Homo sapiens: one gene and its partners. The protein of the gene in region 1 purifies or fractionates together with the protein of each later gene. This does not show direct contact. Each region holds a gene or a part of one and is shown in the gene's direction. Other genes may lie near its edges.

What was found.
Region 2: the proteins of LBX2 (region 1) and PREPL purify together in Homo sapiens (affinity purification with mass spectrometry; one large-scale study listed by BioGRID and IntAct). This does not show direct contact.
Region 3: the proteins of LBX2 (region 1) and SPATA33 purify together in Homo sapiens (affinity purification with mass spectrometry; one large-scale study listed by BioGRID and IntAct). This does not show direct contact.
Region 4: the proteins of LBX2 (region 1) and GGPS1 purify together in Homo sapiens (affinity purification with mass spectrometry; one large-scale study listed by BioGRID and IntAct). This does not show direct contact.

Annotation. Positions count from the first base shown.
Region 1 is NC_000002.12:74,496,078-74,501,998, reverse strand, and holds LBX2 (transcription factor LBX2), read left to right. Parts: upstream 1-2,395; 5' UTR 2,396-2,461; coding exon 2,462-2,666; intron 2,667-3,680; coding exon 3,681-4,072; 3' UTR 4,073-4,482; downstream 4,483-5,921. UniProt on the Homo sapiens protein: Transcription factor.
Region 2 is NC_000002.12:44,350,891-44,356,497, reverse strand, and holds part of PREPL (prolyl endopeptidase-like), read left to right. Parts: intron 1-5,607. UniProt on the Homo sapiens protein: Serine peptidase whose precise substrate specificity remains unclear. Does not cleave peptides after a arginine or lysine residue. Regulates trans-Golgi network morphology and sorting by regulating the membrane binding of the AP-1 complex.
Region 3 is NC_000016.10:89,662,854-89,668,460, forward strand, and holds part of SPATA33 (spermatogenesis-associated protein 33), read left to right. Parts: intron 1-5,607. UniProt on the Homo sapiens protein: Plays an important role in sperm motility and male fertility. Required for sperm midpiece flexibility and for the localization of sperm calcineurin to the mitochondria. Promotes mitophagy as well as acts as an autophagy mediator in male germline cells.
Region 4 is NC_000001.11:235,333,721-235,339,327, forward strand, and holds part of GGPS1 (geranylgeranyl pyrophosphate synthase), read left to right. Parts: intron 1-1,521; 5' UTR 1,522-1,544; coding exon 1,545-1,614; intron 1,615-5,607. UniProt on the Homo sapiens protein: Catalyzes the trans-addition of the three molecules of IPP onto DMAPP to form geranylgeranyl pyrophosphate, an important precursor of carotenoids and geranylated proteins.

The DNA of each region.
Region 1 (5,921 bases):
CTCCGTGCATCTCTTGAGAAGGATCGTGAACAGGGAGGGTTCTACCCGCGGGTGGGAAGAGGCGAGCACCCAGGAGCTTCTGTGCTTCCAAGCTGGGGTGGGGGGTAACCTATAGGACAGCCGAGTGAGTGTCCCCTCCCCAACCCAGAACAAGTTTTAATCTCTTAATCTTCCTCATTAATCACTCACCCTCCTACCCCTCTCTGTGGATCCGATTTCGCCCCAGCTCGAGTTCCAGTACTGAGAAAAGTCCCCTTCTGTGGCCCCACGATCCCCTGGACTAGTCCCTGGCCGCTTTGACGACCTTAGAGGGGCCTCTGCTGTCCTGGGCCTCCTCCCTTTGCTACTCTCCACTTCCATCTCCTCCCCCAAACTCATGTTTAGGAGCTGTCCAATCCCAGTACCTGAGCCCAGCTGCAGAGGGGAGAACTAGGCGGGAGAGATGGAAGGGGCTGTGAGGCACAGGCCCATCAGCAGAGCTCCACACTCCTCACAGACACACGTAAGTAATTGAGAGCAGAGGTAGAGACAGACACAAAAGCCACATAGAGGATGCATGAGTGAAGGTTGCAGCATCTGCTTGGTGATATGCCTGGGATGCAGTGGGGCAGTTCCTGCTGCCTCCAGAGAGCTGCTTTATTGCACATTAAGTGAAACCACTAGGATGGTTTCCAGGGCTGAGGCCTGTAGCCCGAAGATCTCTCCAGGCCCTCCCCTGCCCCTCACCATTAATAACCATTTAACAACGTCCTGAGGCAGCTCAGCTTTCCACCATGGCCTGGCTCTGCTCTTTGATCCAGCAGTGGCCCATCAGCCTTTAAGTGTGTTGCTCAGCTTTCCAGGAGGGCATTATGTGAATGTTGCGGGTGGGGGAGGGGGGTTGTTGGAGTGAGCCCTTTACCAAGAAGACCCTATCAAGGTGCCTTCCCATCTTTGTCAAGGAGTCTTTGGCCCAGGTGCCTTGGATCTCCTAAGCCCTGTTTAGGGAACCCCAATTGCATGCAGCAGTTGCCCCAGGGAATAGACAGGTGGACACTGCACAGATGGTGGGAGATGCAGGGGTCTACAAGGAAAGTGACATAATGGACAGTCCAGGAGGGACTGGCCTGGTTTTTCCTGACACTGTTTTAAAAAGCTAGAAGCACATCAGTTTCTGACTTCCCTGGGCAGCAAAGCAGCAAGCTCCTCAGGAGTGGCAGGGCTTCCCTGCTCTAAGGTGTGAATCCTCCAGCTGTTTGGGGTGGAATGTAGGAACAAAACCCATACCCTGCTGGGCCTCAACTGCTGAGGCCCCACTGTCCCTGAGCTGCCTTCTTCCTACAAAGGAGGGCTGTGGGTGCTTACCCAGGTATGAGCCCAGAACCAGAATAAGTGTGGCAGATAAAAAGGGCCCAGATTAAATAGGAATGAGTATACCAGGCCTCACAGTTAGTACCTGGGTTGTCAGGAATGTCCCAAGATCCAGCTGGGTCCGTGAAGTCTGCCCTTCAAGTCTCTCTTCTATGGGGAGTGACCCCTCTCTGGTCAGGGCACCTTGCTCCCCTTGGCAGTTTCTGAGCCTCTGCAGGCTGGGGAAACCATACATACCTGAACTATGGGAGCTTAATAAAAAGAAGATAAAGACAGACAAAATCGACTGATTTTGCCAGTCCTCACTGACAAAGACCCCTCCTGGGCAGTTGCACCAGCTGGGAGTTCCCTGGGTCTTCTCTCCTGCGGCCCGGGTCTCCCGGCAGCTTCTCTGTGTGTTCTGATTTCGTCAGGTGGGGCAGCCTCGGGTCCATTCACCTGTGCTTGCTTCTTCGTGGCATCCCCACTATTCCCAGTTGCAGTCGCTCCGCCAGGCCAGGTCCTCCCAAGTGTTGCGCCCCCGACCCATGCAGCACTAATCACTTCCAGCCGTCAGGACCAGAAACAACGTTTCTCAGGGGTGGGGTGGGGAAGAGGGAGCCAGGTTAGGAGACTGAGGTCCTAGCTGGGATCAGAGATCCCAGCACAGTCAGCCCTGATAGCCTTCCTCAGAACTTTGCAAATCCCCAGCCGCTGGGGCCAGAGAAGGCAATTTTATCGTCTACTAGTTTATGAGCCGGAGCGGCGGCTAGGCGGGGAGTCGGCGGCATACAGCGTCTGGAGGTATGGCCCGGCCTGACTGTGCACGGTGCAGCGCCCCGCAGCGCGGAGCAGCCCCGTGGCCCTGCTCTGGTGGGTAGTTTGGTCGGCTTCTGCTCTCCGCGCCTGCCCCAGCCTGTAGAAATACCCTCCCCGGACATCTAGGAGCTCCAGATCCACCGCGGCCCGGGGTGGAGAGGTGGGGGCGCAGGAGGAGGGGCACACGGGACTCGGGCCCAGAGCCGGGGGCGGGTCCGAGGCTGGGGGCCCGGATTGGGAGCCGAGCACTGGGGCCCAGGCGTTTGCGGAGCCTAGCGCAACGGACAGCCGGACCGCCCCAGCCCGGCCGACCATGAACTCGGGACGCGAGCCCCGAACACCCCGGACACTCTTAAGCATCGCAGACATCCTAGCCCCGCGCATGGTCCCCCGAGCACCCTCTGCGCCGCAGCTTCCAGAGTCGGGTCCGGGTCCAACGTCGCCGCTGTGCGCGCTGGAGGAGCTGACTAGTAAAACTTTCCGCGGACTTGACGCGCGCGCTCTGCAGCCCTCTGAAGGTATAGAGCCGGCAAGGTCGCGGACTCTGACTTAGCCTTTTCCTCACCTCTCTCCTCCTGGTTCCCCGTCTCAAACCTTTGTCCCAGCCCAGGCCACCCACCCTAATCCTCCCCTGTCCTCAGCCCACGTGCCAGGACTCGCACCTGCGACTTCTCACCTCTCCTCCGTTAGTCCCTAGGTTCCGCGGCGGCTCCGGAAGGCCGCCAGTGCCAAGGGAAAAGGGCAGACCGTCGCCAACTGAGCGACCTGTTGCTCTGTTCCTTGTAGGCGGGGCAATCGCGATAGAGAAAGGCAGGAGAGAAAGAGACAAAAGGCTTCAGCCGCAGGCGGTAAACGAGTGAGCCTGCAAAGGCGGCACAGAAAGCGCTGGAGAGTCGAGTCTTTCCGGGTGACCAAGCTCCGCTCCAAGCCACTCTCTTCTCGAGGGGAGTCAAGGAGCAGAAAGCCCTTGGCGCAGCACTGGGCGCGGGATTCCGCACTCTGCCTTTTCTCGCTCTCTGTACCTCATTATCTCCCTTTGGGGCCGGAGGAGCGGGCTCTGGTGTCACTAAGGAACTGTAAACCGAATGCCCGACCCGATCCATGGAAGGGCATGATCTAAGTCCTGTTACCACCACCACGCTGGGTCGGCTGCCCTGACTCTTACTCGCCTCTGATGTCACCCTCAACTTATAGCCTGCTCAGCCTGAGGCTCCTAAAAGCCTCAAAGGCTCCACCCCAGAAGGTTTGACCCTGCACCTCTGAATCATCCCTCCCTTCCTTCACTTCCTTGCCCCTACAATATGCCCTCAGCCTGCTGCCTTTCGCACCCCTGTGGCCAGCCCGCTTTGCGCCCCATATCCCCACCTGGGCCTGACTCCCGATAAGGGATCACAGTTCTGGTCTCCGTCCGCCTTCCTGGCTCTCCCTCTACTTCCCCCACCGCCACCGGCCCGACCCCACCCCCAACTTTTCTTTCCAGGCCCAGCCTGATTCCCGGAGGCTGGAAACTGACCCCCTCCCTATCCCTACAGGGCGGGCAGGTCCGGACGCGCTGGGCCCTGGTCCCTTCGGCCGCAAACGGCGCAAGTCACGCACTGCGTTCACCGCGCAACAGGTGCTGGAGCTGGAGCGGCGCTTCGTCTTCCAGAAGTACCTGGCGCCGTCCGAGCGAGACGGGCTAGCTACGCGACTCGGCCTGGCCAACGCGCAGGTGGTCACTTGGTTCCAGAACCGGCGAGCCAAGCTCAAGCGCGATGTGGAGGAGATGCGCGCCGACGTCGCCTCGCTACGCGCGTTGTCCCCGGAAGTCCTGTGCAGCTTAGCACTGCCCGAAGGCGCTCCAGATCCCGGCCTCTGCCTCGGCCCTGCCGGCCCTGACTCCCGGCCCCACCTGTCAGACGAGGAGATACAGGTGGACGATTGAAGACAAAGCCGCCGCCAATCCTGGGCTCTGGGGCCCTGGACTCCTCACCTCGCGCTCTGCCTCTGGCCAGAGTTCCAGGGTGGAGGAAGGAGGTCCACTTGGGCCTCTTCCGGCCCACAGTCCAGACGCTCACCTTTCCCGGTTTTTTTGTAAGTTTGTTTTGTTGTCTGAGACAGGGCCTCGCTCTGTCGCCCAGGCTGGAGTGCCGTGGAGCGATCACCGCTCACTGCAGTCGCGACCTCCTGGGCTCAAGCGATCCTCCTGCCTCAACCTCCCGACTAGCTGGCATTACAGGCGTGCAGCACCACCCCAGGCTAATTTAAAAAACTTTTTTTTTTAGAGAGGAGGTCCCGCTATGTTGTCCAGGCTACTTTCCCAATATTTGAGAATAAAGTCGAGACTCTGCCGCACCATGCCTCTATCCAGACGCCCGCCAGAAGCAAGAAACAGTAAAATCTGTAAAGTGCTATGGGGAGTCCGCACTTGGCACTGTGCCAGGGCTTTCAATGCAATGTTTCCTTTAGCCCTTATAGCAACCCTTTAAGGTAGGTAATAATTACACCATTTTTACAAAGTCAGAACCCTGAGGTCAGGTTTTGGACCCAGCATCCAGCCAGCCTTCAGAGCTGATGCTTATCAGTCTACCAAGGGGAAGTCACCGGGCCTGAGTGAAAGACAGTGGGGCCTTGGCCCACCTACTGTCTGCCTGGGAGACCTTGATTCTAATCCCTAGGTTGGCCCCAGAGTGATGACATTGTTTCCCCACCTGTTAATGGGTTCCTGACCCTTTCCCCATCCTGCCAAAAGAACCCTCCGCTGGGACACAGGCAAATAGACGGGTGCCCAGAGAGGCCACACCCCTACCTGGAAGACCTCTGCCAGGCCCCTGGGCCAGAAATTTTACCACTAGGATGGTGGCAGCAGCCAGAGGGTGGAAAGGCTTGGCCTGCTGGGGCGAAGCTTGGAGTAGTGGCCTTGCCTGGTAGGGATTCCAGCCTAACTCAGCCAGTGGACATTTCTGACATTCATTTATTCCACTGGTGATAATCACCCTCCTGCAGTGTGAGGGGAGAGGAGGGGGAACGCTCAGTAGTTGCAGGCCTTCCCCTCCCCAGTGGTCCCAGCCAATCTTCAGATCAAGCTCAGTTGTCTTTCCTGCTTCCCTTCTCTCCTGTCAGTCCTCTGGCTCTCTTCAGACTTTCTCCTGCCTCTGCCTAAGTGTGACAACCCTACTTTCAAGGAAGTTCCATGGGTTCAACGGGGGTCAGCTAGGGCCTTAGTTGCAGGTGGAGGGCCCAAGAGAGAATATTCCTTGGAAAGTGAACAAGGCTGGAAGGCAGAAGGGAATCTGGCATTTTCAGACAGTACCACTTATTAAGCAGTTCCAAGTGCTTTGCAGGTATTAATCCTTAAAATAACCCAACAGGACAGAGACTTTTCTTTCCATTTTAAGGATGAGACTGAATTACAGAACCCTGAGGAAACTTGGCCAGGTCACAGTTTGTAAGTGGTGGCACAGGGACTGAGCTGTTTGCTTGTCCGACTCAGGAGCCCATGCTCTTGGTCTCTATAAAGGTGACTGAGCCTAAAGGAAAGAAGCAAAGGATTTACAGAGAAAGGGGAGGAGAAAGGGCCACAGGTAGGGACTTAGGCATTGTACTTTAGAGCATGGTCCCTGGAGGTTTTAGAGAAGAGAGACAAGAGACCATTGTTTAGGGTAGGCCAATCTGGCTGTGGGCGCAGGTTGGATCAGAGACTGGTAGAGACCTGAAAAAGGGAGTATATATCTGGCCACTGCAAAAGGTAACAGCAGAGAGAACTCAGGGCCAGACTTGAGGTGGGGCTGGGA
Region 2 (5,607 bases), about 30 Mb from region 1:
TCTTGGCTCACTGCAACCTCCACCTCCCAGATTCAGGCAATTCTCCTGCCTCAGCTGCCAAGTAGCTGGGATTACAGGCGTCCACCACCATGCCCAGCTAAATTTTTTTGTATTTTTTAGTAGAGACAGGGTTTCACCACGTTGGTCAGGCTGGTCTCGAACTCCTGACTTCAGGTGATCCACCTGCCTCGGCCTCCCAAAGTGCTGGGATTACAGGAGTGAGCCACCATGCCCGGCCCCAGATCTGTTTTTTGAAGTTCACATCAGGTAATTCTGGAACTCACAACTTGACTGACACTGGACCTGAATTTAGAAATTGGAAATGTTTGATGATCAAGTGTTGCCGATCTAAACCTTATTGAATTCATTCAGTTCTGCAGTTCTTATTGGCAAGTACCTCTGCTTTCCATTTTACATTAGCCAGATGGCAAGATGAACTTACTCTATTATACTTACAAGCCAGCCAGTGATATTCAAAGACTAGCATCCATCCATCCAGATATCACATTTCTTTATCTTCCACATCATCCTGCTCTGCTCTGCCTAAAAAATAATTCCCAAAATCTTTAATAGTGATAATTTGAACAAGATACAAAATGAAATTGTATAATTAAAGAGAGAAGACTAAATCCTTTGGTTAAACATGTCATTTGCCTATTTCTACAATACAGGTTAGCAGCTCCTGCAATAGTCTCATATTCATATGTGTGTGTGTGTGTATATATATATATATATATATATATATAATATGTAGTTTTGTATATCTTGCAAAAAGTTTGAGCTACATCCTTTTAAGCAATAGAATGTTATTGAAAAATGTAGGCGCAATCAGATTTGCATTTTAGAAGAATCACTCTGACAGAATAGAGAATAAATTGGAAGTAGGAAGCCTTGTCAGTAACTCAGATGAGTGAAGATGAGAGTCTTTACAGGGTGATTGCTTTTTTTTGAGACAGTGTCTCACTCTGTCACCCAGTCTGTAGTGCAGTGGCACAGTCTCTGCTCACTGCAACCTCCACCTCCCAGGCTCAAGTGATTCTCGTGCCTTAGCCTCCTGAGTAACTGGAATTACAGGCATGTGCCACCACACCCAGCTAATTTTTTTATATTTTAAGTAGAGACAGGGTTTCGCCATGTTGGCTAGGCTGGTCTGGAAGCCCAGCCTCAAGCAATCCACCTGCCTTGCCCTCTCAAAGTGCTGGGATTACAGGCATGAGCCACCGCAGCTGGCCCTGATTACATTTTATTTGAGACATCTTAATGGAAGACTAGAGAGCTTGAGTGATAATTCCTCATCTCTTTGGATTCTAAAATCCAAAAGCCTGTTAGAAAACAAATGATTTTTTTTAACTGATTGGAGGCTGTTGAGAATGGGCAAAACCTGACCTAAACTGACACAAAGCTATTATGATCTTTATCCCAATTAGTAGATGTTTAGCTCTAAAATGTTACTGCATTTGATTAGAGTGTTGTTCCCCTGTAAACTGAGATAAGGTACCCAGTTAACATTCCAAAATCTCAAAATTCTAAAACGTACCTGGTTTATCTTTATGTTTCAGATGGACTTATTTCACAGTCATGTATGTAATCTTACTGATATTCAGATCTTAAGGGTGAAGAAGGCCGGGCGTGGCGCCTCACGCCTATAATCCTAGCACTTTGGGAGGCTGAGGCGGGTGGATTGCCTGAGGTCAGAAGTTCAAGACCAGCCTGACCAACATGGCAGAACCCCATTGCTACTGAAAATCCAAAAATTTTAGCCGGGCCTGGTGGCGCATGCCTGTAATCCCAGCTACTCGGGACGCTGAGGAAGGAGAATCACTTGAACCCGGGAGGTGGAGATTGCAGTGATCTGAGATCGTGCCACTGCACTCCAGCCTGGTGTGATGGGAGCGAGGCTCCATCTCAAAAAAAAAAAAGAGAGGAGGAAAGGATAAATATAACTCACTAGTAAAGTGGAGATTTCAGTAGCAGTTGGATATATGAGTCTGGAATTTGGGGAGAGTTGTTACATGTAGATAGTAGTTGAAGCCATAGGAGTCAAATCACTATATTTACCTCTCTGCTATTACTACATCATTTTAAACTTTTCCTGTCTCCCCATTATATTGGGAGGTCCTTAAAGACAAGAATTTTATAATACACATCTTGCCAGCACATAGCATAACGACTGCCACATTGTAGATAAGCAACGTGTTTATAGAATGAATTAATAGTTAAATTAATGCATTTTTTCTTTTCATATAACCATAAATTTTATTGCTAGAAAACATACCCCAGAAATCATCCCATCTGAGCTCTTTCTTTAGGTCTTTGATACTTTTTTTGTTGTTGTTGTTGTTGAGAGAGGGCCTCACTCTGTTGCTCAGGCTGGAGTGCAGAGGCACAAACATGGCTTACTGCAGCCTCAACCTCCTGGGCTCGTGCTGTCTTCCTGCCTTACCTTGCAAGTAGCTGGGCCCACAACTATGCCCAGCTAATTTTTTGATTTTTTGTGTGTGTGGAGACAGGGTCTCACTTTGTTGTGCGGGCTTGTCTCAAACTCCTAAGCTCAAGTAATCCTCCTGCCTCAGCCTCCCAGAGTGCTGGCATTACATGTGTGACCCACCATGCCCAGCCCTATGACCCATTTTGAGTTCATTTTGTTTATAGTGCAAGGGATTGGGGTACAACTTTATTATTTTGCTTGTGGATATCCATTGTCTGAGCAACATTTGTTGAAAAGAGTGTTCTTTTTCCATTGAATTGTCTTGGTGTCCTTTCTGAAAATCAACTGACCATAAATTCAATGGTTTATTCTTGACTCTCACTTTCATCTCATTTTTGTATATGTCTGTCGTTATGCCAGTACTACACATTTAATTACTATAGCTTTGTAATAAGTTTTATTTATTTATTTATTTATTTTTTGAGATGGAGTCTCGCTCTGTCGCCCAGGTTGGAGTGCAGTGGTGCCATCTCAGCTCACTGCAACCTCTGCCTCCCAGATTCAAACAATTCTCCTGCCAAGGCCCCCCGAGTAGCTGGGATTACAGGTGCCTGCCACCATGCCCAGCTAATTTTTTTTTTATTTTTAGTAGAGACAGGGTTTCACCATGTTGGCCAGGCTGGTCTCAAACTCCTGACCTCAGGGTGATCTGCCCAACTTGGCCTCCCAAAGTGCTGGGATTACAGGCATGAGCCACTGCGCCTGGCCTGTAATAAGTCTTAAAATCAGGAAGCGTGTGTATTCTTTCTAAACAAATGAAGAAACTAAAGCCACAGAGCCTAAAGTTAAGTAAGAAAACTAGTAGAGTCAGAAGTAGACCTAAGTTAGCCTCATTCACAGTACCTTTCTTTTTTAATATCTTGTAGTACAGGTAGACCATCCCTAATACAAAATCTGAAATGCTCCAAAATCCAAAACTTTTTTAAATAGAGACAGAGTCTTGCTATGTTGCCCAGGCTGGTCTGAAGCTCTTGGGCTCAAGCAATCCTCCTGTCTCAGCTTCCCAAAGTGCTGGGATTACAGGCATGAGCTGCCACTCATGGCCAGTGAGCATCTTTTCTTACACTTATTGATCCTATAGTTTTTCTTCTTGAATGCCTATTCTTGTCTTTTGACCTTCTTTTAATTGTCTGTCCTTTTCTTACTGATTCATAAGATTTCTTTACGTGTCCTTTGTCTTTTATATGTGCTGTAGATATCTTCTCCATATTTGTTCTATTATTATTTTTTTCACTTTGTGATATCTTTTGTTAAATATGTTTTTTTCATTTTATGTTTTATGCTGTCTGAATTTTATTCAACTCAGCAAATATTTGTTGAACACCTGCTATGCACCATTCTAGGCACTGGAGATATAACACTGAACAAAATAAACAAAAATCCCTGCCTTTGTGAAGCTTACCATCCTACTTGAGAAAGGAAAAGAGAAAGAATAAAGAATTACATGAACAAGGCTAGGTGCAATGGGTCATGCCTGTAATATACTTTGGGAGGCTGAGGTGGGCTCATTGCTTGAGCCCAGAAGTTCAAGAACAGCCTGGGCAACATGGCAAAACCCTGTCTCTACAAACAATGCAAAAATTAGCTGGGCATGGTGGCGCCTGTAGTCTCAGCTACTTGAGAGCTGAGATCAAGGATCAATTGCTTGAGCCCAGGAGGCAGAGGTTGCAATGAGCCGAGATCATGCCACTGCACTCCAGCTGAGGTGGACACAAGCAAGTCCTCATCTCTCAAAAAAATAAAAAGAATTACATGAATGAAATACAAAGTGGGTCAAAAGCGATAGTTATGGCGAAGAAGAAAAGAAAAAAAAGACGGGGAAGATGTGAATAGGCAGTGTGGGGATAGGGAGGGGTGTTATTTTAGTAAAATGGTTAGGAAAGGCCTAACTTAGAAGATGACATTTGAGCAATAGCTTTAAGGAGGTATTTGGGCATAGGGCCCAAGTTCTAAGAAACTGATATGGGAGCAAGCTTGATATGTTCAAGAAACATCAAGTATGGATTAACTGGAATAAGTGGGCTTGGCGTGTAGCAGTAGATTAGGTCAGCAATGTAATGGGACAAGATTCTTTAGGACTTTGTAGACCATTGTAAGAATTTTTGCTTTTCCTCTTGAGCAAGATGGGAAACCACTGGAGGGTTTTGAGTGGAGTAACATAATCTGACTTCAGACTCACACAAGCTCCTTTGTTGAAAATAGACCAGGAGGCAAGCGCAGAAGCAGAGAAAGCTTTTGGGCTTTTGCAGTAATCCAAGGGAGAAATGATGATGATACTAGCCAAGTAGTCCAGTCCAAGTGTGAGAAGTGGTCAGATTCTAAATATATGTTGAAAGTAGAATTGAGAGGATTTAGCAGACCAGTTGTTTGTGGCAAGAGAAAAAGACAAATCCAACTGTAATGTTTTTAAGCCTGAGTAGCTGGGAGGACAGATTTGTCATTTATGTAAATTGGAAAGATTGCCTGGAGAACAGGGTTTTGTTTTTTTTTTTTTTAATAGGGCGAGGGATATATGGGGAGATTTAAAGTTCAGATTCGGACATTTTTTGGCATATTAGACATCTAAGTAAAAATGTTGGGTAGTCAGTTGGATATACAAGTTCATCTTGGTCAGGATTGTTCAGGCTACAGCTGTAAATTTGGGAGTCCTTAGCATATAAATGGTATTTAAGGTCATGACTGGATGAGATCACCAAGGGAATTAGTGCAGACTGCAAAGAAGAGAAGTACTTAGTGCAGGAATTGAGCTCTGCCAGTGTTAAAAAGCCAGGGAGATGCCAGGCCCAGTGGCTCACGCCTGTAATCCCAGCACTTCGGGAGGCTGAGGCGGGTGGTTCACCTGAGGTCAGGAGTTTCAGACCAGCCTAGCCAATATGGTGAAACCCCATCTCTACTAAAAATACAAAAAAAAAAAAAAAAATTAGCCAGCGTGGTGAGCAAGTGCCTGTAATCCCAGCTACTCAGGAGGCGGAGGCAGGAGAATCGCTTGAACCCAGGAGGCAGAGGTTGCAGGGAGCCGAAATCCCATCTCAAACAAAAAAAAAGCCAGGGAGTTGAGAAGGAACTAGCTAAAGATACTGAGAAGGAAGGGCCAGTGAAGTAAGAGGAAAACAAGGAGA
Region 3 (5,607 bases), on another chromosome or scaffold:
CACAATCTTGGCTCATTGTGACTTCCGCCTCCCGGGTTCAAGCAATTCTTCTGCCTCAGCCTCCCGAGTAGCTGAGACTACAGGTGTGCGCCACCATGCCTGGGTAATTTTTGTATTTTTAGTAGAGACGGGGTTTCACCATGTTGGTCAGGCTGGTCTCAAACTCCTGACTTTGTGAACCACCCGCCTCAGCCTCCCAAAGTGCCAGTGTTACAGGTGTGAGCCACCACGCCCGGCCTGTAACATTTTCATGAAGGTAGAGTATACTTAATTGCAAGAAAATTTTGAAAAAGAAGAGAAATGGAACACTTCTATTGGCTATTAAAAAATACCATGCTGAGTGAAAAAAGCCAATCCCAGAAGGTCACATGCTGTATGATTCCATTTCTTTTTTTTTTTTTTTTAGGCTGGAGTGCAAATGGCACGATCTTGGCTCACTGCAACCTTGGTCTCCCGGGTTCAAGCAATTCTACCTCGGCCTCCGGAGTAGCTGGGACTACAGGCATGCGCCACCATGCCCAGCTAATCTTTGTATTTTTAGTAGCGATGGGGTTTCTCCATGTTGGTCAGGCTGGTCTCAAACTCCCGACCTCAGGTGATCCGCTTGCCTCAAACTCCCGATCTCAGGTGATCCGCTTGCCTCGGCCTCCTGAAATGCTAGGATTACAGGCGTGAGCCACCATACCCGGCCGTGATTCCATTTCTGTAACATTCTCTGAATGACAAAATTATAGACAGGGAGGACAGATTGTTGATTGCTAGGGCCTTGGCGTTGGGGTAGGGAGTGAGGGGGTCTGTGAAGGGCAGGGCTTTGGGGTTGGGGTAGGGAGTGGGTGTGTCTGAAGGGCAGCAGGAGGAAGATGGGATTGTTGGTTTTGGTGGTGATTGATTAAATGGCGTAGCTGTACATACACTCATAGTACCGGAGTCCATTTCCTCGTGTCGATAATGGTACTATAGTTATATAAAACGTTCGCTTTGGGAGCCAAGCACAGTGGCTCACGCCTGTAATTTCAGAACTTTGGGAAGCCTAGGCAGGCAGATCACTTGAGCCCAGAAGTTCAAGACCAGCCTGGGCAACATGGTGAAACCTGATTTTTACAAAAAAGACAAGAATTAGCTGGGTGTAGTGGAGTGTGCCTGTAGCCCCAACTAATCAGGGGCCTGAGATAGGAGGATCCCTTGACCCCATGAGGTTGGGGCTGCAGTGAGCCAAGATCGTGCCACTGCCCTCCAGCCCCGGCGACAGAGTAAGACCCTATTTATGCTTCCTAGCAAGGAAAGACAGTACACATATTGAAGAATTTGACTGCGTTAAAATGTTAAACCTCTCCCCAAACTCTTATAAACAATTGTAGAACAAATGATAAGCTCAAAAAAATATTTACATCTATGAGAGGCCAAAGAATATCAGTTGACTCTGGATCAGGGGCTCGGACACGTTGCTGTGGAGGCACACATCTTCCTGGAAGGCGGTTTGGTAACAAGGTGGCAGGACTCAAGACAGCCCACACGATCCCTGCCCCTGGGAAACAGCCATGTGTAACCCTCCCCTCGAGTGTGGGTGGAATGAGGAAGAGGGAGGTGTGTCTCTCCTGCGATTAGCTCACTCATCCATTGAGTTTGACGTCATCAAAATGCGAGATGATCCTGGATGGGCCCGACCTGATCAGGGAAGCCAGACAGTAAAAGTGTCAGAGGCTCTTTAGGGCCCGACCTGATCAGGGAAGCCAGACAGTAAAAGTGTCAGAGGCTCTTTAGGGCCCGACCTGATCAGGGAAGCCAGACAGTAAAAGTGTCAGAGGCTCTTTAGGGCCCGACCTGATCAGGGAAGCCAGACAGTAAAAGTGTCAGAGGCTTTTTAGGGCAGCGAGAAAACGGGAACTTCATTCCTTGAACCGGGAATAAATTCTGCCTCCAACCAGAATGGGCTTAGAAGAGGGTCCTCCAGCTCCTCATGAGAATGCAGTGCAGCCGGCCCCTGGAATTCAGCCTGCGTCCCAGCCACGCTGCACCTGCACCCCTGACGACGAATGCAGTAAGATGATAAGTGGATGTGCTGGTTTCAGCCCTGAAGTTGGTGGTGATTTGTTGTGCAGCAATAGAAGTACACACAATATGTACCAAGAACCTTGAGAAGAGTCACATTTATTCTTTCTGTTTTGTTTCTGAGATGGTCTCACCCAGGCTGGAGTGCAGTGGCACCATCTTGGCTCATTGCACTCTTGACGTTCTGGGCTCAAACGATTCTCCCACCTCAGCTCCCTGAGTAGCTGGGGCCACAGTGCACGCCACCACCCCCAGCTATTTTTTGTAGTTTTTGTAGAGATGCGGTTTTGTCATGTTGCCCAGGCTGGTCTCGAACTCCAGAGGCCAAGCAATCTGCCTGCTTCAGCCTCCCAAGGTGCTGGGATTACAGGCGTGAGCCACCGCACCTGGCCCAAGATTAATATTTCTTTTTTTTTTTGAGATGGAGTCTTGCTCTGTCGCCACCCAGGCTGGACTGCAATGGTGCATCTCTGCTCACTGCAAGCTCCGCCTCCCGGGTTCATGCCATTCTCCTGTCTCAGCCTCCCGCATAGCTGGGACTACAGGTGCCTGCCACCACGCCTGGCTAATTTTTTGTATTTTTTTTTTTTTTAAGTAGAGATGGGGTTTCACTATGTTAACCAGAATGGTCTTAATTTCCTGACCTCGTGATCCGCCCGCATCGGCCTCCCAAGGTGCTGGGATTACAGGCGTGAGCCACTGCGTCTGGCCTAATATTTCTAAATGAAGAAACTATACTTTGAGGAAGATGAAATAAGTCTTGTTTTAGACTAGAAAATTTCAATAGTGTAAATACGTTAACTTCTGTAAAATCAGTCAACACCAAGTCAAAACACAAAAGATCTTTTGGGAATATGAGCAGATTATTCAAAGGTTCATCTAAAGAATAAAAATGAGGCCAAGTGTAGTGATTCACGCCTGTAATCCCGGCACTTTGGAGGCCGAGGCAGGTGGATCACTTGAGGTCAGGAGTTCAAGACCAGCCTGGCCAACATGATGAAAGCCCATCTCTACTAAAAATACAAAAATTAGCTAGGCGTGGTGATGGGTGCCTGTAGTGCCAGCTACTTGGGGAGGCTGGGGCAGGAGAATCACTTGAACCTGGGAGGTAGAGGTTGTAGTGAGCCAAAATTGTGCCACTGCACTCCAGCCTGGGCGACAAGAGTGAGAATCCATCTCAAAATAAATAAATGAATAAAAATGAAAGCAGTAGGAAACATCTGGAAAACCAGAGGCATGAGGGGGTCGGGCCCTCTGATACTCAAGTAGGTTAGAGTAAAAAAAAGCCAGATATGGTGATGTGGGAATATATGGTCCCATAGGTGGGATCTGTGGTTCCAGCTACTCAGTGAGGTCCGAGGATCACTTGGGCCTGGGAGGTTAGGACTGTAGTTTGCTATGATCACATCCACGAATAGCCACTGCGCTCCTTCCTGGGCTACAGAGTGAGACCCTTCTCTAAAAATGGAAGAAAATGGCCGGCACAGTGGTTCATGGCTGCTGTAATCCCAGCGCTTTGGGAGGGTGAAGTGGGAGAATAACTTGAGCCTGAGAGTTCGAGACCAGCCTGGGCAACATGGCAAAACCGTGTCTCTACAAAAAATTTCAAAATTAGGTGGGTGTGGTGGTGTGTAGGGTCCAGCCCCACAGGGTCGGTGGGTTTTCTCCCCATGTGCGGAGATGAGAGAGCGTAGAAATAAAGACACAAGGCAAAGAGATAAAAGACAGCTGGGCCCGGGGGACCACTACCACCAAGCCGTGGAGACCGGTAGTGGCCCCAAATGCCAGGCTGCACTGATATTTATTGGATACAAGACAAAGGGGCAGGGTTAGGAGTGTGAGCCATCTCCAATGATAGGTGAGGTCATGTGGGTCATGTGTCCACTGGACAGGGGGCCCTTCCCTGCCTGGCAGCCAAGGCAGAGAGAGAGGAGACAGAGAGACAGCTTACGCCGTTATTTCAGCATATCAGAGACTTTTAGTACTTTCACTAATTTGCTACTGCTATCTAAAAGGCAGAGCCAGGTGTACAGGATGGAACATGAAGGTGGACTAGGAGCGTGACCACTGAAGCACAGCATCACAGGGAGACGATTAGGCCTCTGGATAACTGCGGGCAAGCCTGACTGATGTCAGGCCCTCCACAAGAGGTGGAGGAGCAGAGTTTTCTCTAAACTCCCCTGGGGAAAGGGAGACTCCCTTTCCTGGTCTGCTAAGTAGTGGGTGTTTTTCCTTGACACTGACGCTACTGCTAGACCATGGTCTGCTTGGCAACGGGCGTCCTACCAGACGCTGGCGTTACCACTAGACCAAGGAGCCCTCTGGTGGCCCTGTCTGGGCATAACAAAAGGCTCACACTCTTGTCTTCTGGTCACTTCTCACCATGTCCCCCCAGCTCCTGTCTCTGTATGACCTGGTTTTTCCTAGGTTATGATTGTAGAGCGAGGATTATTATAATATTGGAATAAAGAGTAATTGCTACAAATTAATTAATGATATTCATATATAATCATGTCTGTGATCTAGATCTAGTATAACTATTCTTATTTTATATATTTTATTACACTGGAACAGCTCGTGCCCTCGGTCTCTTGCCTCGGCACCTGGGTGACTTGCCGCCCACAGTGGTGCGTGCTGGTGGTCCCAGCTACTTGGAAGGCTGAAGTGGGAGGATCATTTGAGCCCAGGAAGTTGAGGCTTCAGTGAGCCATGATCATGCCACAGCATTTCAGCCTGGGCCACAGACCTTCAAGATCCTGTCTCAAAAAGAAAAAGGGATATCGCTCAGTGCTTAGTGCAGCTGTGGGTCATTCGGCAGCTGACACAGATGAGGCTATGTAACGCAGCACTGCAGGCAGAGGGGGAGGCCAAGGCCTGAATACCCCGTCTGACTAGCCTTAGGCAGGCGACTTGGCCTCTCTGCCTCCCCCATCTGGTTAGCCTTGGGCAGTCGAGTTGGCCTCTGTGTCTCCCCTGTTTGACTAGCCTTGGGCAGATGGCTTGGCTTGTCTGTACCTCAGTTTTGTCTGAAATATGGGTTGTCAGAGACCTATAGCAGAAGCTGCTGTGTGTCATTATTCACTGTTCTAGGGCTCAGAACAGGCACGCGATAAAAGCCAGCACCGTTGGCCGGGCGCATTGGCTCACGCCTGTAATCCCAGCACTTTGGGAGGCCAAGGCAGGTAGATCACCTGAGGTCGGGAGTTCAAGACCAGCCTGGCCAACATGGAGAAACCCTGTCTCTACTAATAATACAAAAATTCCCCAGGTGTGGTGGCAGGAGCCTGTAGTCCCAGTTGCTCAGGAGGCTGAGGCAGGAGAATCACTTGAACTCAGGAGGTGGAGGTTGCAGTGAGCCGAGATCACACCACTGCACTCCAGCCTGGGTGACAGAGCGAGACTCCGTCTCAAAAACTAAGAAGAAGATTAATAATAAACCAGCACTGCCATTGCCAGCAGTCCATCCTACCTCGCATCCAGGTTCGTGAGCTACCAAGTGTCCCCACAAAGCTGTAAAACAACATGACCACTGTAGTTACGTTTCTGTAAAAAGGTGAC
Region 4 (5,607 bases), on another chromosome or scaffold:
TGGTTTCCAATTCCAAAATCCAATGATGTGCAACTCATTGAACAGCCCTAACCACAAACTGCCATTAGATGCCATATTACATTTAGCCTTTTTGTTGTAGAAAAGTTGGTTAGAAGTGGGCTCAGGATTCTAAAGACTAAATCATAGTCCCAAGAAGCAAAAGAAAGAGGATAAAAGTAATAAACTTCCCAAAATGTGCCAAAGATGCTAGAGCAGTTAGATTCCTAATATGAGGACAAGTAATAATAGAAACAGATACAAAGAAATAAAGTAGAGATTCAACAGTACAGGGAGACCCTAGGAAGACCATGAGTGTTATTCTAGGAAATACTGAAATAAGACAGATTTCAGTATAAAGGGGAATATGTTTAATAAATATATGCATTTGAGTTAATGCGTATTTTAAATCAGAAATCTCTGAAATGGATTGATTGTAGAGAAACTACTAGGGGGACGAGGAGAATCCCTTTAAATTTTAAATACATAAAACATACTCATCTTAGTGCTCATTTAAAAAAGGATATGTTTACTAATTAGTGTAATCAGTTAAATACAGAGGTATCTTTCCAATTCTTTGGATGTGTTTTGACATTTGCCGTCAACAAATTAAGCCTTTTGTGGTTGATTAAAATAGGAAAAGCTTAATATAAGTTATGTGACTAAGAAAACAACTTAAAAACCAAGACAACACTTTGACCAATATAATCACTTGAATGAAGAATTTTCTAATTGAGATATAATTTACATACCACCCATTTAAAGTGTACATTTCAGCAGTTTTTAGTGTATTCACAGGGCTGTGCAACCATCACAATTTAATTTTATAACATTTTGATCCCTGCGAAAAGAAACCCTGTACTCATTAGCAATTAGTCCCTGTTCCTAACCACTAATCTACTTTCTTTCTCTGTAGATTGGCTTATTCTGAACATTTCGTATAAATGGAATCATACAATATGTAGTCTCTTGAGATTGGCTTCTTTCACTTAACATGTTTTCAAGGCTTCATAGCTGTAGAATCTTGCTTTGTTTTTTTGAGACTGGAGTCACTCTTTCGCCCAGGCTGGAGTGCAGTGGTGTGATCTCAGCTCACTGCAACCTCTGCCTCCCGGGTTCAAGCAGTTCTCCTGCCTCAGCCTCCCAAGTAGCCAGAACTACAGGCACACACCACCATGCTCGGCTAATCTTTGTAGTTTTAGTAGAGATGGTGTGAAGGCTGGTCTCGAACTCCTGACCTCATGATCTACCCACCTCAGCTAATTTTTCATATTTTTAGTAGAGACAAGGTTTTGCCATGTTGCCCAGGCTGGTCTCGAACTCCTGGGCTTAAGCTATCCGCCCGCCTCAGCCTCCCAAAGTGCTGGGATTACAGGCGTGAACTACCGTGCCCAGCAACAGAATCTTCTTTTTAAACCAGACTAGGTGTCTTTTCACAAACACCCTGCAATACAAATTCCTTTGCAGTTTGACACTGAAAGATGATTAGTTTCATGTGATCTTTATGTTTCTCCTTTTTGACAGATTAGCTTTGAAGTTTAAATCCAATGGAGAAGACTCAAGAAACAGTCCAAAGAATTCTTCTAGAACCCTATAAATACTTACTTCAGTTACCAGGTAATACTTCACTTACAGTCCATATAGGGTCATTTTCATGCAGTAGTGGTCGTTCAAATGTTAGCAAATAGAAAAGGTTAGACTTGCTAGCCGTTGAGATTTTCTATTTAAGGTGATGCGTATGAGAAAAATGATAAATAGAACATTATAATTTTTTCTTTATTAAAAGGTAATTTTTGCCAGGTGCAGTGATACATACCTGTTGTCCCACCTACTTGGGAGGCTGAGGCAGGAGGATGGCTTGAGCCCAGGAGTTTAAGGCTATAGTGCACAATGATCACACCTGTGAATAGCCACTACACTCCAGCTTGGGCAACATAGTGAGACCCCGTCTCTTAAAAAGAAACGTAATTTTTGAAGGCACCCTTTAAAACATATCCAATTATTTAACATATCTTGAAAAATAAAAATACTTAAAACATTTTGGTATCTCATTGGAGGTTGTACTCTTTACGGATATTACGCATTCAGATTCCCCACTGTTTAGATATTAGGGGAAGTTACGCAGATTTGTTTAACAGTAGAACACTTTATTTACCATACATGTTCAAGTTTACCTTCTATGTCTGTATTTTCCAGTATCTCACACATACACTGCATTTCATATACTACTGGTTCCTTTGAGAGCCAAATAATAATGTATCTAAAATCACAGTATTTGGAAATATAGCCCACTTTATTCCTGTATAAGGGTATGCCACCTTGGACATGGCTTCCTACCTCACGTGTACGTGTGTGTTTTTGTTTTATTTTGCTTCTTTAAAAACTTGTCTGGAGGCTGGGCGTGGTGGCTCACGCCTGTAATCCCAGCACTTTTTGAGGCCAAGGCGGGCGGATCATGAGGTCAAGAGGTTGAGACCAGCCTGGCCAACATGGTAAAACCCCGTCTCTACTAAAAACACAAAAGTTAGCTGGGCATGGTGGCGCATGCCTGTAGTCCCAGCTACTCGGGAGGCTGAGGCAGGAGAATCACCTGAACCTGGAAGGCAGAGGTTGCAGTGAGCTGAGATTGCATCACTGCACTCCAGCCTGGCAACAGAATGAGACTCCGACTCAAAAAAAAAGAAGAACTTGTCTGGAAATGATAATAAGCAAAAACTCATGAATATAATAAACAGGGGTTATTGTAATAAAAAATCATTTGTATTAGAATATTCTTTCTCATAGACATAATATAGGCCAGGTGTGGTGGCCCACACCTGTATTCCCAGCACTTTGGGAAGCCAAGGCAGGATTGCTTGAGACCAAAAGTTTGAGACCACCTTGGGCAACATAACAAGTCCCCCTCTCTGTTTTAAACATTTTTTAAAAAAGAAGAAATAATATAAAAGTTGGTAAATTATTTGACAAGCATAAAAACCTATTTAGCCATACTGTGACTAAACTCTAATGATGCTCTCAATTCAGTCTCAATAGACACTTTTAAATTTCCGTGCTAAAGTACACACCTTTCTTTATGAGCACTTCTCTGTGGTAATATGTGCATTTCTGTTCTTCATGAGCCTGGGAAGGATAAAAGCCAAAAGAATGCTTGCTCCTGTGCTACACCTTGGAAACCATAATTAGTGTCATTTTTATTTTGGCCGACCCTAATAGAGACTCGCCTGCTAATGTCAATGCATGAGAAGAATGAGGGAATGACAGAAATGGAGAATTCAAAGGGAAGGTTGCCCACTGTTTAAGAAAAAGCCAAGAGACTGCTTTTGAGTGACATTTATCCAGCAGTTAGTAACTTATTTCAGTATCTCCCAGTGAGAAACATGGCACAGTTTCACTTTCACTCTACCCAGCTCTTACTGCCAGACATCCTTTAGAACACGCTCACAAACACTAGCTGGAACTGGGCTGGCATTAATAGCAAGCCAGTTATCAGTGCTGACAAAAGTCTAACAAGCATCGCTTGAATGTCTCTTACTCTGCTACTTACAAAGCAAGGACTGCCTACAGTTACATTTTAACCATAATGCTTACTTATGCTGTGACCACCTTCTGTGACTTCCTTTTTTTTAATTCTCATTACTTGGAAATAATGTTTTAAGACATTAGATAACATATTTAAAATTATCACTAGGTACCTCACCTTTTTATTCAAGTACGTTCTTGATCCATGATGGAATACAACCTCAAAAGATACTACTAAAGAAATATGACATTGCACTATGCACATAACACACTTATTTTTTTACAGAGAGCTTCAGAGTTACTAAAGTAACTTAGAGGTGTGCCAGGTCATTTATACTGTTGTAATATTACTCTTGCTAATAAATAATAATAATGCTATCAGTATTTTCTGAAGTCAACCTGGCCAACATGGTGAAACCCTGTATCTACTAAAAATACAAATATTAGCCAAGTATGGTAGCGCATGCCTGTAGTCCCAGCTGAGGCACGGGAGTCACAGGAGCCTAGGAGGCAGAGGTTGCAGTGAGCCGAGATCACGCCACTGCACTCCAGCCTGGGCAACAGAGTGAGACACTGTCTCAAAAAAAAAAAAGGATTTTCTGAAATTAGTAAAGAAAATTATTTTTATTTTTAAATTTCTCATACTTGCTGTCATCTTATGTTTATGTTTGTTTATTTGCCTTAGTGTGGGGCCCTAGATGAGGTGAAGGGTGGGATTAGGGAGAGATGAAGCTGGCAGTGGAGGAAGAAGGGCTCCAAAAAGAGAGACAATAATGTTTAGATCTTAAAGAGGAAGCAGTAATCTTTTAATTTTGAGAGATCTCTGTGATTAGCCTCAGTACTAGAAATTATTTTGGAACTCAGCCAGGCGCGGTGGCTCACATCTGTACTCCCAGCACTTTGGGAGACCGAAGTGGGCAGATGGCTTAAGCCCAGGAGTTCAAGACCAGCCTGGGCAACATGGCAAAACCCTGTCTCTACTAAAAATACAAAAAATTAGCCAGGCATGTGATACGCCCTTGTAGTCCCAGCTTACCTGGGGGACTGAGGTGGGATGATTACCGGAGCCTGGGAGGTTGAGGCTGCAGTAAGCCAAGATCACACCACTGCACCCCAGCCTGGGTGATTAAGGGAGACCCCGTCTCAGAAAAAAAAAAGGGGGGGAAACTTAAAAGCATCAGGCTAAACACTAGCATGTCATCAGAGGGGAAAAAAATATTAAAACTGTAGTACCTCAAAAATAAGCCATATATTGTACTGTTTTCTATATAACATTCAAAAGTAAAATGAAAAATGAAATTTCACATTGAGACTCTGTTTTTCATCTTCAAAAAAATGTGTTTAAGTGATACAGGCCAAGTGCAGTGGCTGACTTATTATCCCAGCACTTTGGGAGGCCAAGTGGGACAGATTGCTTTTGAGCCCAGGGGTTTGAGACCAGCCTGGGCAACAGGGCGAAACCCTGCCTCTACAAAAAATAAATAAATAAAAATAAAATTAGCCAGGCATGGTGGCTTGTTCTTGTAGTCCCAGCTACTCAGGGGACTTGAGCCTAGGAGGTCAAGGCTGCAGTAGGCCGTGATTGTGCCACTGCACTCCAGCCTGGGTGACAGAGCGAGACCCTGTCTCAAAAATAATAATAATAGGCCGGGCGTGGTGGGTCACACCTGTAATCCCAGCACTTCGAGAGGCCAAAGCATGTGGACGACTTGAGGTCAGGAGTTCGAGACCAGCCTGGCCAACATGGGGAAACCCTGTCTCTATTAAAAGTACAAAAAATTGGCCGGGCGCGGTAGCTCACGCATGTAATCCCTACACTTTGGGAGGCTGAGGTGGGTGGATCACCTGAGGTCAGGAATTCAAGACCAGCCTGGCCAACATGATGAAACCGTCTCTACTAAAAATACAAAAAATTAGCTGGATTTAGTGGCGCACGACTGTAATCCCAGCTACTCAGGAGGCTGAGGCAGGAGAATCGCTTGAACCTAGGAGGTGGAGGTTGCAGTGAGCCAAGATCGTGACACTGTACCCCAGCCTGGGCAACAAGAGCAAAACTCGATCTCAGAAAAAAAATACAAAAAATTAGCTAGG